Linked DNA regions of Homo sapiens: region 1 is linked to region 2. The links come from fine-mapping of genetic effects on gene expression. A gene starts in region 2. The other region holds a variant in brackets. All regions are shown on one strand. Distances are between the middles of the regions. Region 1 overlaps SNAPC4 (small nuclear RNA activating complex polypeptide 4). Region 2 holds the start of ENTR1 (endosome associated trafficking regulator 1).

Region 1 (8,000 bases), 22 kb before region 2:
CCCCAGCCTGGACGACAGAGCTTGCTCTGTCTTTATCTTGATCTCTTTTCTAAGAAACAAAAAACAAAAAAAAGAAACTAGAAGAACAAACTGTCAGCAACTTACCGACACCATATTTTTCTATTAATTCAATTAACTGTTCCTCTTCTTTTAAATTCCACCGACCCTTTTTCAAGCTGAAATGTAATCTCCTGAGATACCTGAACGTGACATGAAAAGCAAAGAACGTTTTAGATGCCGAGACGCCGCCCGCTGCTGCCCCAAGCTTCTTTAATGGTTTCTTGGATATGACACTAAAGGCGCAAGCAACAAAAGAAAACTACAGATAAAGTAGACTTCATCAAAAGCTAAAGCTTTTGTGTCCCAAAGGACACCATCAAAAAAGTAGAAAGTGTACAGGCTGGGAGAGAACGTTTGCAAGTCACGTGTCCGATAAAGGACTTATATCTGAAACATATGAAGAACTCTTACAAGTCAGTCATAACTAGACAAGTAATGTCAAAAATGGGCAAAGGACTTCAACAGACACTTCTCTAAAAACCTATTTCTATGAACAGTCACCAACCACATGAAAAGAGGCTCCACATCAGCCACAGGGAAGCGCACGTCAAAACCACAAGACACCACTTCACACCCGCTAAGATGGCTAGAATCACAGACAGATCACAAGTGCTGGTGAGAGTGTGGAAAACCGGAGCCCTCATACATTCCTAGTGGGAATACGAAATGGTTCAACCTCTTTGGGAAACAGTCTGGCCATTCCTCAAAAGGTTAAACACAGCGTTACCCGGACCGAGCAATTTCACTCGCAGGATATAGCTGAGAGAAATAAACAGATATCTATGTAAAAAAGTGCAAGCAAATGTTCAGAATGTTTTCAGGGTTCATCCATGTTGTATCAGAATTTACAGAAACGCGGTATTTATATGAGAATCCCACTCCCCCCCCTTTTGTTTTTTTTGAGACGGAGGCTCACTGTCGCCCAGGCTGGAGTGCAGTGGCGCAATCTCAGCTCGCTGCAACCACCAACTCCCAGGTTCAAGTGATTCTCCTGCCTCAGCCTCCCGAGTAGCTGGGATTACAGGTGCCCACCACCATGTGTGGCTAGTTTTTGTATTTTTAGTAGAGACAGGGTTTTACCATATTGGCCAGGCTGGTCTTGAACTCCTGACCTCATGATCTGTCCGCCTTGGCCTCCCAAAGTGCTAGGATTACAGGCGTGAGCCACCGAGCCCTGCCAACCCCTTTTTAAGGCCGAATAATATTCCCTTGTATGAAAATTTTATTTTCCACTCATCTGCTGATGAATGCTTGGGCTGCTTCCGGCCTTTCACTCTTGTGAATGATGCTGCTGTGGACATTGTTGTATCTGAGCTCCTACTTTCGATTCTTTTGGGTTTTATGCTTATCAATCTTGGGGGTATAATTCTATGTTTAACTCGCTGACGAACTGCCATGCTTTCCAAAGAGGCTGGACCATTTTACAACGCACAAAGGTTTCAATTTCTCGACATCCTTGCCAACACGGTGACTTTTTTTTTTTTTTAATTAACAGCCATCCCAACGCGTGTGTGGTTTTGACTTGCACTTCCCTAATGACTCATGGCGCCAGGCATCTCTTCATGTGCTCACTGGCCATCTGTGCATCTTCTTTGGAGAGACGGCCACTCAAGTTCTTTGCCCGCGATTAGATTGGGTTGTTTTTGTCGTTGAATGGCTTTTTCGGGTGATGAAATGTTTTACAATTGATTGTGGTGATGGCTGCACAGCTCAATGAATACTAAATACTAAAAACCACTGACCTCTACCTCTACACTTCATTTTTTTTTTTTTTTTTTTGAGACGGAGTTTCACTCGTCGCCCAGGCTAGAGTGCAATGGCGTGATCTCGGCTCACTGCATCCTCCGCCTCCCAGTTTCAAGCGATTCTCCTGCCTCAGCCTCCCGAGTAGCTGGGATTACAGGCATGTGCCACCACGCCCGGCTAATTTTGTATTTTTAGTAGAGACGGGGTTTCTCCATGTTGGTCAGGCTGGTCTCAAACTCCCAACCTCAGGTGATCCGCCGGCCTCGGCCTCCCAAAGTGTTGGGATTATAGGCGTGAGCCACTGAACCTGGCCTTCTACACTTCATTTTAATTAATTAATTAATATTTTTTTGAGACAGTCTTGCTCTGTCACCCAGGCTGGAGTGCTGTGGCGTGATCTCAGCTTACTGCAACATCCACCTCCCAGGCTCAAGCGATTCTCCTGCCTCAGCCTCCCAAGTAGCTGGGATTACAGGCGCCACCCCCACCATGCCCGGGTAACTTTTGTGCTTTTAGTAGAGATGGGGTTTCGTAGAGACGGGGTTTTGACCTGGCCTCAAGTGATCCGCCTGCCTTGACCTCCCAAAGTACTGGGATTACAGGCGTGAGCCACTGCGCCCAGCTTCGGAAATATACACTTTAAATGAACGCATCGCATGGTGTGTGAATTATCTCAACGAAGCTGTTTTTGAAAGGAAAATAAGCAGGAAAAGGAGGGAGCTGCAGCTGTGTGCCCAGAGGTCCTGCCTATCAGCATTCTGAGAGAACTGAGACAACTAGGGTCAGGAAAAGCCGCCCAGGGAGCTGTCTCAAGTGGAGCCCATGCGTTGCTCCGGCAGACAGCAATACAGAAGTCAGGCTTGGAAAACACAGCTCAGCCGGGCCAACCCTGGCAAGCAAGCGCCCACAGCCCACACCAGAGTGCACCTGGTCAGCGACCCACACGGGCCCCTCCCTCGCCCAGCGCTGGCCGCTGTCCCCCAGCCCGCCCACAGCCCACACCAGAGTGCACCTGGTCAGTGACCCACACGGGCCCCTCCCTCGCTCAGCGCTGTGCGACTCACCGATCTCGGCACTGGGCATCGCTCCTACCTGGCACCTCTTCCCGGATTTTAAACCAATCCTGCTCCCCGTATTTGGCAACAGCTTGAAGCAACTTCTGCAGGAAGGGACAGGCAGACAAGTGAAGCCTCTGCAGGTACGGCTGCAGCCTCCCCACCCTGAACCCAGTCAGAGAAGGGACCACTGGGGCACAGCAGCCGCTGAACACAGCCGCGTTACCTTCCCAGAGCCCAGTTCTCCTAGGGTCCCGCACACTTACAGCATCTTCCTCCGGGGCCCAGTAACCCTTCTTCAGACCAGGATCCAAGCTCTTGGTCCATCGGTAGATCAGCTGCATGGAGTCTCTCCCTTCCATATAGTAGACAACTAGGGACAGAGGAACAGGGAGGTCCTGTGGGGCCGAGACACACACCCTCCATAGAGTAGACAGCTAGGGACAACAGGGTCCCGTGGGGC[C/T]GAGACACCCACCCTCCAGATGGGTCACATAGAAAAGAATCACTTTGGCCAGGTGCAGTGGCATCATGCCTGTCATCCCAGCACTTTGGGAGGCAGAGGCTGGCGGATCACCTAAGGTCAGGAGTTCGAGACCAGCCTGACCAACATGGTGAAACCCCGTCTCTACTAAAAATACAAAATTAGCTGGGCGTGGTGGCGCATGCCTGTAATCCCAGCTACTTGGGAGGCTGAGGCACGAGAATCGCTTGAACCCGGGAGGCAGAGGTTGCAGTGAGCCAAGATCATGGCGTTGCACTCCATCCTGGGCAACAAGAGTGAAACTCCATCTCAAAAAAAAAAAAAAAAAAGTCACTTGAGTCACCAAGAAGCGAACTGTGGAACAGCCAGGACTGTCTAAGCCCTCGTCTGTCTTGTTGCTTCTCTGTGAATTTTCCCTGCAAGTCTCCAGTGTCCTGATATGGGGCCCTGTGACAGCCTGAGAGCCGTCGGGGTGGAGGGGCCTCACTTCTGCGGTAGGGGATGTGGCTGCCGACGCGCATCTCCTGCACCAGCTGCGTGAGCATGCGGTCCTCCTCCTCTGTCCACTCCTTGCGTTTCAGAGCTTTGTTGTGCTGCTGGAATTTCTGCAGGCACTGGAAGGCGCTGCGGCTGGTCTTCCCAGGCCCAAACAAAAGCAAATGAGTGTTACTGCGCGGCAGGATGTCCAGATCTGGCTCTGAGTGCCCCAGGGCACAGGTGGGCCCATGAGCCACTGGGGTGACCCTTCTGCAGACCCCAGCTCTCCTCCTCCCAGACTCCTGTGGGCTGATGGAGAGCACCCCACGGTAGGAAGACAATACACTCACTAAATAGGACCAGGAAGGACCAGGTGAGAGAGGAATCAAACCTTCACTTAAGAAAATATTAAGAAAAATTCACAATAGGTAAACTGATATGACTCCAAAACCACACTGCAACTCACTCAACAGAAACTCCCAGCTTGGCAAGGGCTGGGAGACGCACTGCTCTGCATGTGGCATGCTCTCTAAATGCAGTTGCTAGCACCTTCTCTCCCTTCTCGAGCTCTAGAGTATCTCTCAGCTAAGGGGTATGGGGTGGAGGAGGTACGGGACAGCCCTTGGTTTGGTGTCCATGTCTCAGGAGACGCCCTCAGAAGAGAGTGCCCCAAAATGACTCTCCCAGCTTCCCTGTGTGGCTCGGCTCAGCAAACCCACCCTCAGTCCACACAGTGGACCATCTGCCCAAATCTTTTCCTCACTCATCTTCTCAAGGGGTTTTCCAAGAGCTGATGAGTGCTACCTGAACCCTGTTCTCTGAAAGTGAGCTGCTGGGTGGCACAGGGCACACAGGGCTAGATATGCTCTGAGGTTTGCTTTTTCTGAAAGTGAGCTGCTGGGTGGCAGAGGGCGCGTGGGGCTGGACGTGCTGTGAGGTTTGCTTTTTCTGAAAGTGAGCTGCTGGGTGGCAGAGGGCACGCAGAGCTGGATGTGGTGCCGCTGAGCTGTGAGTTTTGCTTCCAAGGCTTTCTTCCCCACCAAGTCCTTCCCAGCTCGCTACATCACAGGTCTATCTGAGACTCGTTCACCACAAACAAAACCACCACCCCGGGGTGTGCAAGCTGCAGGGCAATCCTAGTCAACGTGTGTGAGCCTCGCCCGCACGCCCCCAAGAGAGTGCTTCTGGGAACATAACACACTCAAGGCCTCACCCGTCCTCCTACACTCAAGCTGGCGCTTCCCAACCAGTGGAAAGAGAGACCCTTCTCACACCCATCCCAAGCCTGCCGAAGGAGTTGGGAAGGCAAAGGACTGGGGGGTGGGGCGGGATTCAGAGCTGGGCCCTGCTCGGGTAGCTGAGAGCAGCAGCTCTCAAAGGGGGCTGGAGGGTGGCTGGAGTGAAGCTGGAGGGAGGCTGCTGAGGCCTTAGCCTGGCTTTTCTTGACAGTGACTAAAAACACTTCCCTGGAAGGAGAAAGAATCTGGCGGGGGAAAGTGCTGGCGTCACGCTTTCTGATATTAACAGAGAAGCATGTCTGACTATGTGTTCGAAGGAGAAAAAGCCATTAATGGATGGAAGACAGTTGAATTCCCAAAAATCACAAGGAGAAAAACCGGACTTACAGTTTCATCAAACCAGCAAGACAGAGTGGAAGGAAAAGAGGCCACAAAGTAAAACGGACTCGACACACCAGACCCAGGAGGACACCAGGAACACCCACCCTCCCACAAAGCCAGAGGCTGGTCAGGCGGGTGGGAAAGCAAAACCCAGCTGCACGCTGCTTTCATGAAAACACTTGGAAATGACGATTTGTTAAAAGGCTGAAAATACAGGGATGGGCCGGGCGCGGTGGCTCACGTCTGTAATCCCAGCACTTTGGGAGGCTGAGGCCGGCAGATCACAACGTCAGGAGACTGAGACCATCCTGGCTAACACAGTGAAACCCCGTCTCTACTAAAAATACAAAAAATTAGCCGGGCGTGGTGGTGGGCGCCTGTAGTCCCAGCTACTCGGGAGGCTGAGGCAGGAGAATGGCGTGAACCCGGGAGGCGGAGCTTGCGGTGAGCTGAGATCGTGCCACTGCACTCCAGCCTGGGCGACAGAGTGAGACTCTGTTTGAAAAAAAAAAAAAAAAAAAAAAAAGGAAAGAAAAAGAGCTAATGAGCTAACGCAAGCTGGGCTGAATCCCTGGGTGATGGGCTGATCTATGCAACAAACCACCATGGCACACGCTCACCTACGGAACCAAACTGCACATCCTGCACACACAGCCCTGAACTCAAAAAATATGAAAAACAAAAAAGAAAAAAAGAAAGCAGACCCCGATTAAAAAAAGTTATGTGTACCAAACTATGTAGCAGTAAAATATACATAGAAGAAAAACCGATTTGTATTTATTTATTTATTTTTTTTTTTTTTGAGACGGAGTCTTGCTGTCGCCCAGGCTGGAGTGCAGTGGCGCGACGTCCGCTCACCGCAAGCTCCGCCTCCCGGGTTCACGCCATTCTCCTGCCTCAGCCTCCCGAGTAGCTGGGACTACAGATGCCCGCCACCACGCCCGGCTAATTTTGTATTTTTAGTAGAGACGGGGTTTCTCCATGTTGGCCAGGCTGGTCTTGAACTCCCGACCTCAGGTGATCCGCCAGCCTCGGCCTCCCAAAGTGCTGGGATTACAGGGGTGAGCCACTGTGCCCGGCAGAATTAAGCATCTTTAAAGGCAAACTCAATTTAATAGCTGATATAGAGTAGGCCCTACTTACAGAGAACATACCTTTTTCTTAAAAACAGTTTTGGCAAGTTTAGCTGGGTCTGCTATAATCAGGTGCTCTGCCATAAAAAAGTAAAATATATTTGAAAAATGGAGATTTTATACATCTCGCCCCTAGTTCATGTTCCAATCAAATTCAGATAAAGAACCACCACAAGAACTCCCAGAAATCCAACTATTTAAAAACGGAAACATACACTCCTAGATACACCTAGGTCCAAAGAGGCAATAAAAATGGAAACTAGAGCTACTTTGGAAATCTATGAGAAGAAGAGTTCACGCCAAGCTACTCTCAGGGTGGCCTAACAAGCCTCGTTATCAAGACAAGAGACCCAAGTCAGTAAAGAACTGAGTCCTTACTCAGGAAACCAGAAAAGCGGCAAGAACTCACACGAGGAAAAAGCGCTTTAGAAACATCAACAGAATAAACTCCCGAGGCTGATGGAGACAGAAGAAGACTAGAAATAAGAAAGGAGACAAACTCCGGTAAACTGGGCATGCACCGCTGCATGGGGAGACCTGGAGGACTGGGAAGGCCCAGAGGAGCTGCGGCAATGGCCTAGTGGCAGAGAGGGCTGGGCAGGCTCCTTCCCTAGGGCCACAGCCTGGAGGTGGCAACACATAGAAACCTGGCGGTGAGTGAGCACTGGGGACCCCGCACCCGTCCAGCAGCCTCCCGCTATAGGGCCCACACGCCCTCAGGTCTCCTGGCCCCTGGGGTCCAGGCCAGGCCCTTACCCCCAGCTCCTCTGCAATCTTCTGCCACTCCAGGTGGCCGTGTGCAGCCGCGATCGCCTGCAGCCGCTCCTCCTCCTCCCTGCTCCACTCCTGCTTGTTGATGCTGGGGTGCTCCGAGTTCTGCCAGAACTTCCGGATCTCCTCTGCACTGCGGCTGCCTTCAAACTGCACCGACAGAGACACTCAGCCTTGCAGGCCACTGACCCCAGGGGCACCCTAGACGCAGCTCCAGGCTGAGCTGTTGCTCTCCGCCAGCTGGAGGCTTCCACGGCTGCAAGTAAGCGCAATCTTCGTCCAACTCACTAGGCCTTGCATAGCCAAACATGTAGACTTGGCTCCAGATGCAAGGCCGGGAGCCCTCCAGACCATCTCAGAAAGGGCCGTGCACCAGCCTGAAGGCCCTCGTGAGTCCACTCGCCATTCCCGACTGTGGGACATGTGCTTGACCCGGGTGGGTGGGGGGTCACAGCAGAACCTGTTGCCAGGGAGGGTGTGGCCTTACCACCCAATTCCAACTGCACCCGGGCTACAGGGAGCTGTGCTCCAAGCTGCTTGGGGCTCAGACCTGCCCCTGACTTACGTTAATATTGGAAATCTTCTCCCAGTCGTGGCTGTCCAGCCTGTTTCCCAGCAAGGCCTCTTCTGGAAGCTGGCTGGTGGAAGGGATGAGGGT
Region 2 (8,512 bases):
GAGGGAGACCACAGACGGAGGCAGGCACTTTTCAAAGACCTGTGGTCACAGATGCCAGTTAATTTTACTCAGAGGCCGGGGGCAGTGGCTCGCGCCTGTAATCCCAGCACTTTGGGAGGCCGAGGTGGGCGGATCACAAGGTCAGGAGTTTGAGACCAGCCTGGCCAACACGGTGAAACCCCCGTCTCTACTAAAAATACAAAAATTAGCCAGCAGTGGTGGCGGGCACCTGTAGTCCTAACTACTCGGGTGGCTGAAGCAGGAGAATCACTTGAACTCGGGAGGCGGAGGTTGCAGTGAGCCGAGATCGTGCCACTCCACTCCAGCATGAGCAACAGAGTGAGACACTGTCTCAGGAAGAAAATAATTTTTCTTTTTTTTGAAACAGAGTTTCGCCCGTCGCCTAGGCTGGAGTACAGTGGCGTGACCTCGGCTCACCGCAACCTCCGCCTCCCGGGTTCAAGCGATTCTCCTGCCTCAGCCTCCCAAGTAGCTGGGACTACAGGCGCCTGCCGCCACGCCCAGCTAATTTTTGTATTTTCAGTAGAGACAGGGTTTCACCATGTTGGCCAGGCTGGTCTCAAACTGCTGACCTCAGGTGATCCACCCACCTCGGCCTCCCAAAGTGCTGAGATTACAGGCGTGAGCCACGGCGCCCAGCTAAAAAATTTTTTTTTTTATTCAGAGCTTATAACCTTTTAGGTGATTATAATTTTTTAAAAATTTTCCTCCTCTTGGAATACTTAGCAAGCTGGCGACTGCAGCCTGCCTTTACTGAGGGTACAGCCCTGTAAGTGCCCAACTGCATCCAATTCACAGCTTCTAGCTCACCAGTCCTCTTTAGCCGGTTCTATTCCCACGTGTAACCAGAAGCAAAGTCAAAGGGAAAGTGGATAGCAGGCTGTCACGCAAATCGCCTTGTCCTGGAAATCAAACCAGGCCACCCAAGAGGTAGGATGGCTCCAGGTTCTCCCCGGGAGAAGCCGCTCGGACAGGCGCTGTGCCAGAGGGCGCCGTGAGGCTCACTTACTGCGTCGTAACTTATCTGCAGCGTCCGCAGGTGCCTGTCTCCCAGAGACTCTCCATGAACCGCAAAGTCTGCGCTAGGACTCCCTGCCGGAGAGGCCGGAGACACGCGAGAATCAGTGTCACTCAACGCCCACGAGGGCAGAGACTCAGGCCCTGCCAGCTCCGACGGGGTGGAGAAAAAGGAAAGGTATGTGCTGCAGGGCGACGTGCCGGCAGGGACCCTCTCGGGGTGAGTCTGCTCGATGGCGGACGGCAGGTAGGCCCCACTCCATCCGGTGTCCTCATCCTCCTCCTCATCCAGGAGGTCACCAGCCCCTGTCGGATCCTCGAAAAATGGCTGCTGATACTCCAGGCCATACCCGCCGGTTTGGGAGGGTGGGGAGTTGTGGTCAAGTCCCAGGGAATGCCTCGAGGCTTCCTAAAAAAAAAAAAAAAAAAAAAACAATGGAGGCCATGCTTCTGACTCGGAGCGCATCTTCCTTTCTGTGTTCTGCCTCGCAACAAGAAGAAAGGCCCAATCTCTCTACCGGAAGGAGCCCAGCAGCTTCTGAGCCCAGAGCTGCTCCCCAGCACTGACGCCTGCCTGCTCTGCCACACTCATGCACGATTCCTCCAAAGGAGGCTGCAGAGGCCGGAACAGAAACGTCCCACAGAGCCATCGCCCACAGTGCCGTGGATTTACCTTTGCATAAATTCTGCTGGCCGGATCCTCTTTCGAGAGGCCGAGGTTCTTGGTCTTCAGAAACTCTCTAAAAGAGAATGGATTTGCCTCTTCCAGATCTTCAAATCTGTCATCTGAAATAACAGACATCACAAATGCATAAAGTCTACTGAAGAGCGTTGAAAGGGAACCTTCCTGTTCACCTGTCTTTCCAGAGCATGGCCACATGTGAGATCGGGCAGCCACGCTTGTCATTCTACCATGACTCAGGCAGCACTAGGAAGTGTGAAGGTGGCTGAAGGTGGGCAGTGACACAGACGTGCGTCTGCATTTGCAATCTTCTCCTTCCACCCCTCGGCCCCTGCTCCCACACTGTGCTGCTCACTAAAGCTCCCCTGGGGAGCTTTAAAACGACCCAAGCCACTCCACTGCACACACCCAGCTCCCTGGTGTGAGGTCAACCTGTGCTAGGAGCTCTCAAAGCTCCTCAGGTGGCCAGGTGTGGTGGCTCACGCCTGTACCCCAGCACTGTGGGAGGTCAAGGCGGGCGGATCACGAGGTCAGGAGACTGAGACCATCCTGGCTAACACGGTGAAACCTCATCTCTACTAAAAATACAAAAAATTAGCCAGGCGTGGTGGTGAGCGCCTGTAGTCCCAGCTACTCGGGAGGCTGAGGCAGGAGAATGGCGTGAACCTGGGAGGTGGAGCTTGCAGTGAGCCGAGATCGTGCCACTGTACTCCAGCCTGGGCGACAGAGCGAGACTCTGTCTCAAAAAACAACAACAACAACCAGCTCCTCAGGTGCTGCAACGCTGGGGACCCAGTGCCCCCTGACCCTCTTCCCGACTTTCCTACCTAGGTAGCCTAAATAACGCCCACTTTTCCCTTCTCCCTCTTGCCACCGCCTTCCCACCCTCCGGGGACTTAAGCAGCCACACTCGACCCTCCCAGCTGTGAGCCCCATGTAAAGCTGGCTCCTGTGGCCCCAGCCCCCCAGGTGGGGCTTCCCCGCTCCCTGATGTCACCTCGCTGCTACTCTAGGATCAAGACTGAACCCTTGAAATCCCACCCCCACCTGCTCTTTTGGGCTCCAGCTACACCACATAGCCAGTCACATTGACAGTCCCACCAGACACGTGCCTGGCACTGTGTTGGATGGAGACAAGAAGAAAAGGTTGCTGAACTACTCTACCTCCAAAATGTGTCCCGTGGGCTCCTGACGGGCTCTGCTTAGAACATTTCCCCTTTCCATAGCCAAAATCTGCAAAGAAACAATGTCACCCACCATGCTGGCAGGAAGTCTTTATGACCTCACATTTGGTTTTTTTCTTTTGCACATGGAGTCTCCACTGCAGTGGTTCTCACAGTCTAGAGAACTTTTTTTTTTTTTTTGAGACGGAGTCTTGCTCTGTCGCCCAAGCTGGAGTGCAGTGGTGCGATCTCGGCTCCCTGCAAGCTCCGCCTCCTGGGTTCACGCCATTCTCCTGCCTCATCCTCCCGAGTAGCTGGGACTACAGGCACCTGCCACCACGCCCGGCTAATTTTTTTGTATTTTTTGTAGAGACGGGTTTTCACCCTGTTAGCCAGGATGGTCTCAATCTCCTGACCTCATGATCCGCCTGCCTCGGCCTCCCAAAGTGCTGGGATTACAGGCGTAAGCCACTGCGCCCGGTCAGCCGAGAAAACTTTAAAAAAAACACAAGCTCCCAGACTTGTGACCCTGGAGATGGCCTGACTTGCAGACTGGCCCTGGTGTCCGTGGTCTGAAAGCGGCTCCTCAGCAGATTTTGAAGCCCAGCCGGGGCAAGCGCGTCCTCTTGTCTTGTGACAACCCCCGAATGTCCTCAGATCCTGGCATAACCACACAAACACTCCTGCACACCCCGGGCACCCAGCAGCACTTCTGCTTGGGTAGAACGAGGACGAACCAGATCTGGCCACTGCCCGGCTGTGGAGGCAGATGGAATGCTCCAGCTCGGTTTCCAATCACTGCCCACTAGGTGAAGGCACCCCGACTCCAGCCCCACGAGGAAAGCGGGCGGGCTCCTGTGCTCCCCGGGCACTAACCATCCTGTACTGGAACTGTCTGTCTTGGGGGAGGTCTCCCCGCAACCAGACTGTGAGCTCCTAGCAGGGGACTCCGCCTTTGAATTCCGAGTGCCTGGCACGCAGTGAGCGCTCTGCACATTGATGGGTCAATGGACGAGCTCGTGCTGCAGCGGAGGTGCCACACGTGGCGCGGGAACTGGAAGCGTCCCCGGGGCCGGCGCCCTCGTCTCTCACCTGTGTCTCCCACGGAAGCCAGCACCGGGCTGGGCACATAGCACATAAAGGCCGGCCGAATGCCGAAGAAGGGGGAGTCCAGGTCCCTGCCATGGGGGCGCTCACAATTTAGCTGGGGGAGACAAGACCGGCGCTCATAGAACGCTGGAGCTGGAAGCAACGACAACAGCGACTTTACTGCGTGCCGGGGCGGCCGCCGCCCACCTGGACCGCTGGACTCGGCCCCTGCCCCGCTCACCGTCGGGAATGGCGAGGCTCCGGGCTCGGGACAGCGGGGTGGCGCCCGGGCGGCGCTGGTAGCCCGACATCGCCGCCGGCCCGGCGGGGCACGACCTGCCTAGCCCGGCAGCGGCGGCTCCATGGCCCCGGCTCCGCCCGTGCCGCGGCCCGCGTCGCCCGCCCCCGTCGCCCGCCCCCGTCGCCCGCCGCTCGGCCGCCCCCGCGCCTCCGAGCCTCTCGCCGCTGCTTCCGCTCCGAGCACCGAAAGCGCGTGCCTGAACGCCTTGGGCCGTCGGCGAGGGGGAGGGGAAGCCGTGGGCGGAAGCGGAAGTGACGACTGAAGCGGGGCGGAGACGCAAGATGGCGGCTGTGGTGCTGGCGGCGACGCGGTTGCTGCGGGGCTCGGGTTCTTGGGGCTGTTCGCGGCTGAGGTGAGCCAAAGGCGAACCAGGCTTCGGCCTGGGGCGGGGGCGGCTCGAGTCTTTCTGGACGCTCCGTCTTCGGTTTCTACAGGTGACATGGCGCCCGTGGGACGGGCTCGCACTTCGGGACACTGGTGTCCCCGAGGCGACGGGGGCCCTGCCTTGCTTTGCGCCTCGAGCCCGGGGACGCAGTCCCATCTGTCTCTCCTCTCCCCGGCTGCTGGGTCCTCTCCCCCCCTCACTTCCCGGGTCGACGGGCCTTCTCCGAGGCCATGCCTCATATTTGCCCCCGCGCTTCACCTACCGCGTGCTCCTTCAGGAGGCTGAGCCGGTGGGGGCCCAGCTCTGTTAGACCCGCAGGGTTCTGACACCAGGGTCCAGGCTCTCGGTTGCTGCGGTCTGTCCGTTGATCTCTGACGTTTAAGAACCCTTTCCGTACCCACCGCTCCTCCCACCCAAGTGACCGGGCCTGCCTTTCCCCACGCTGGAACTTTGTTCCGACAGCACAGGCGTCGCCCCTCCCCACACAACGAGCGCCGTTTCAGGGGTGCGGAGGTGCTGCCTCCAGGAGATGGATACAGGCTGGAGCGTAAACAAAATATCGGCAGTCGCGTAAATGCTTTGGAGTAAACAAGCAGCCTTTCATGATAGAAAATAGCAGGAAAGACTAGACTGGTGAGGGATAGTCCTCCATCAGGGTGACATTTAAGGGAAGAGCTGAAGAATGAAAGAAGGGGTAGGCATGGGCAAAGGGCAAGCCCTGGAACGGTGAAGAAGCTTTGGGGTTGATGAGTCAAATGTGTTCCAGGAATTGACAAGAATCAGTGTGACCAGGACCTATGGGAGTGTGGGGGTTCAAGAGATGAGTTTGGAGAGGGAGACAGAGGCCAAGTCACACCCCGCCTTCGGACCAGGTTAATAAGGGATATGGCTTTTATCCAAGACTTCGGTGGTGCTGTTGGAGGGCAGAGCTGTTAAGTGCTTTATGTGTACAAACTGCACTTAGAGTGAGTTACTGTTAATAAGCCCTGTTTTTACAGAGATAGCAACTAAGACCCAAAGGACGGAACCAGCTTGCTCCAGGTCCCGTGGCTGAGCCTTTGTTGTCAGCCTCTGCTTTGTCTTCCAAAGTCTGTAGAAATAAGTCCTGTAGAAAGGCAGATGCTCACTTTTAACCCAGACAAAACATAACTAACCGCACCTAACAGGTCATCACAGGTTTGTTGTCTCAAGCCTGTTGTAACTGGGCCGCTTTCTCTGTTTTAGGTTTGGACCTCCTGCGTACAGACGGTTTAGTAGTGGTGGTGCCTATCCCAACATCCCCCTCTCTTCTCCCTTACCTGGAGTACCCAAGCCTGTTTTTGCTACAGTTGATGGACAGGAAAAGTTTGAAACCAAAGTAACCACATTGGATAATGGGCTTCGCGTGGCATCTCAGAATAAGTTTGGACAGTTTTGTACAGTAGGAAGTAAGTACTGTTGTGTTGTCGTGGGTGGTCCCGCAGTTTTAACATGCACATGCTTTAGTTGACTGTTAGTTGTAATTAGCATGCCAATTATGAATTGTACCCTGAGTGGAAACAAAGTGTACGATTTCATAAATGTTGAGCTACACATATACCTGTGAAACCATCAGCACAATCACCCTCATGTAATTAAATCTGATTATCATGTCATATTGACATCTTAAAATGTTTCTCTTGATTAAATCTTATTTTGAATATCTGATGTAACCTGTCAATTTTCTTTTTACTACTAGTTCTTATCAATTCAGGATCGAGATATGAAGCGAAATACCTTAGTGGAATTGCTCACTTTTTGGAAAAATTGGCATTTTCGGTCAGTACCCAGTTTTGTAATTTTTTAGACTATACTTTTGAAGGATGTTTGAGATTTTTCTTGTCTATAATGGTTATTTTAATAAATTATCAAGTTGCTAAGTTAATGTTAATAAAAGACTTTTAAGTTAAAAGATAATTTTTGTATGTGTGTTAAAAGCAAAAGTAGATTTTAAAAAAAAATTGTGTTTCAGGGATAGCCTGGATTGCTTATTTAGGTTTCCTTATTTATTTTTACTAGTCTACTGCTCGATTTGACAGCAAAGATGAAATTCTGCTTACGTTGGAAAAGCATGGGGGTATCTGTGACTGCCAGACATCAAGGTACACCAGCTTTTGTGTACAAACTGACTTTGGGTCCTTGGGAACTGACGTTCTTGTCGTTGCTCAGATTCCCTCTGAGCCCCTCCCAGCGGGAGGTGTGGAGATTCACGGGGAGAAGGAGCCCTGTCCTGGATGGAGACTTGGGTGGATGGCGCTTACACAGAGAAGCACAGCCCCCAGGAGCTCAGTTGACCCCCGTCAGTTCCTCCAGGCTGTTGGCTGCATGCCAGGGATGTAGAGCAGGCCCTGTTCCCAGATAGAGCAGAGGGCCTTGCATACGTAATGGACCCCGTAGCCAAAGGCGGTAGGAGCCAGGAGGATGAGTGGCTGACTTGGTCTGGAGTTGGGAAAGGAATCATAGGAAATGCAGGGTTGGGCTGGTTCCAGAAGGAGTTTGCTAGACACACGGGGCACAAGGCATTCCAGACCAGGAGACAGCAGGGGCAAAAGGCACCGAGCCAGGGAGGTGCCGGCTGCTTGGTGGAGGGAGGGGGCAGTGTTGCCTCGAGCACAGTGCAGTGGTCTTTGCATGCCAGGTGTGGAGCTTGTTCAGAAAGCACTGGGCAATGTGAGATGGGTGAATATAGATCACAGATTTTTAAAATTGTTGATTTAAGTTTGAATGCTAAAAAAATTACACATAAAAGACACATTAAATGCTAAGAATTAAAGTTAGCTTGGAGGTAACATATTCATGTTCTAAAACAAGGCCTCTTAATACCCCCTGACTCCCAGCTGCCCCTGCCAGGTTCCTGCCTGGTGTGTTTGATTCTCCGACTCTTGCCTCGAATCTCACTCATCCCAGATGAACTCCTTTCTCTGGCCAGGTGGCTGGTGTCCTGACTCAGACCCAGCCCCCCTCGCCCTCAGCTCAGGCTTTTGTTCTTGCCATTCTCCCCATGTGGAGAGCCAAAGTCACTGAGAATGGCTCCTCTTCAGGGTGAAGGTCCAGCCAAGTCCCCTCTTCAGAGGCACTGGTGACTGCGTCCTGCCTCCCAAGCTCCCTCTTCTTCGTGGCTGTTGCGTCTGCTCTGCATGGTCTCCCTTGATCACACTTGATCTCAGAGCACCCCATGATTTCGTGCCTGTCCCATGGGCCAGCTCTGTGCACTTCTGACTGTGCAGTGCCTCATGCCGGGAACAGATGTTACAGTGAGACAAGCTCCATACGAGCCAGCCATTGCTGTCCCCCAAGCCAGCCAAGGCCGGGCATGTTTCCACACTCACCAGTGGGTTCGTTCAGTCAACAGGAGGCTGGGATGAAACACTTCACCTTTTGAGAGAGAGTATAGTTACAAAAATCTGTATCAGAAGTGGCTCCATTTTGACTCAAGCTGTGTGTAGCTGTGAGTCCTGCCTACCAAGCATTCACACTGTAAGACAGGAAAAGAGAAAGGGGAAAAGTGTCTGCTGTTCCCCGATGAAGGGTAGGAGGTGTCCCCTGGCACGCAAAGCCCAAGCGTCCCTGAAATGTCTGCTGGGCCCCAACAAAAGGTAGGTGCCCCTGGCATGCAAAGCCCAAGTGTCCCCTGGCTGTTGAGCAGAGTGTGAGCTCAGGGCCTGGCATTGTCCACCTGGCACGCAAAGCCCGAGCGTCCCCTGGCTGTTAAGCAGAGTGTGAGTTCAGGGCCTGGCATTATGGGCTTGTGTTTTCTTCCAGAGACACCACCATGTATGCTGTGTCTGCTGATAGCAAAGGCTTGGACACGGTGGTTGCCTTACTGGCTGATGTGG

What was found. PIP is the estimated chance that this variant, and not a neighbour inherited with it, causes the effect.
Region 1: its variant is the best candidate, but not a certain one, in a credible set for the expression of ENTR1 in lung (TOPMed, PIP 0.82).

What each region holds. Positions count from the first base shown.
Region 1 is chr9:136,384,615-136,392,614 of GRCh38, forward strand. It overlaps SNAPC4 (small nuclear RNA activating complex polypeptide 4), which reads right to left. Exons shown (of 24, transcript NM_003086.4): 9 at 7,908-7,980; 10 at 7,328-7,492; 11 at 3,830-3,977; 12 at 3,128-3,234; 13 at 2,871-2,965; 14 at 106-200. Among named protein-coding and RNA genes, the nearest start is that of SNAPC4, 12 kb to the right of the region's middle. The variant C/T (reference allele first, on the strand shown) is at 3,325.
Region 2 is chr9:136,406,115-136,414,626 of GRCh38, forward strand. It overlaps ENTR1 (endosome associated trafficking regulator 1), which reads right to left and starts at 4,500. Exons shown (of 10, transcript NM_001039707.2): 1 at 4,214-4,500; 2 at 3,976-4,125; 3 at 2,885-2,953; 4 at 1,712-1,824; 5 at 1,031-1,447. The coding sequence starts at 4,283. It overlaps PMPCA (peptidase, mitochondrial processing subunit alpha), which reads left to right and starts at 4,544. Exons shown (of 13, transcript NM_015160.3): 1 at 4,544-4,625; 2 at 5,883-6,085; 3 at 6,376-6,455; 4 at 6,696-6,778; 5 at 8,439-8,512. The coding sequence starts at 4,555. RefSeq lists enhancers at 809-1,397, 3,603-3,762, 4,613-4,702, 4,733-4,782 and silencers at 4,123-4,172, 4,313-4,402.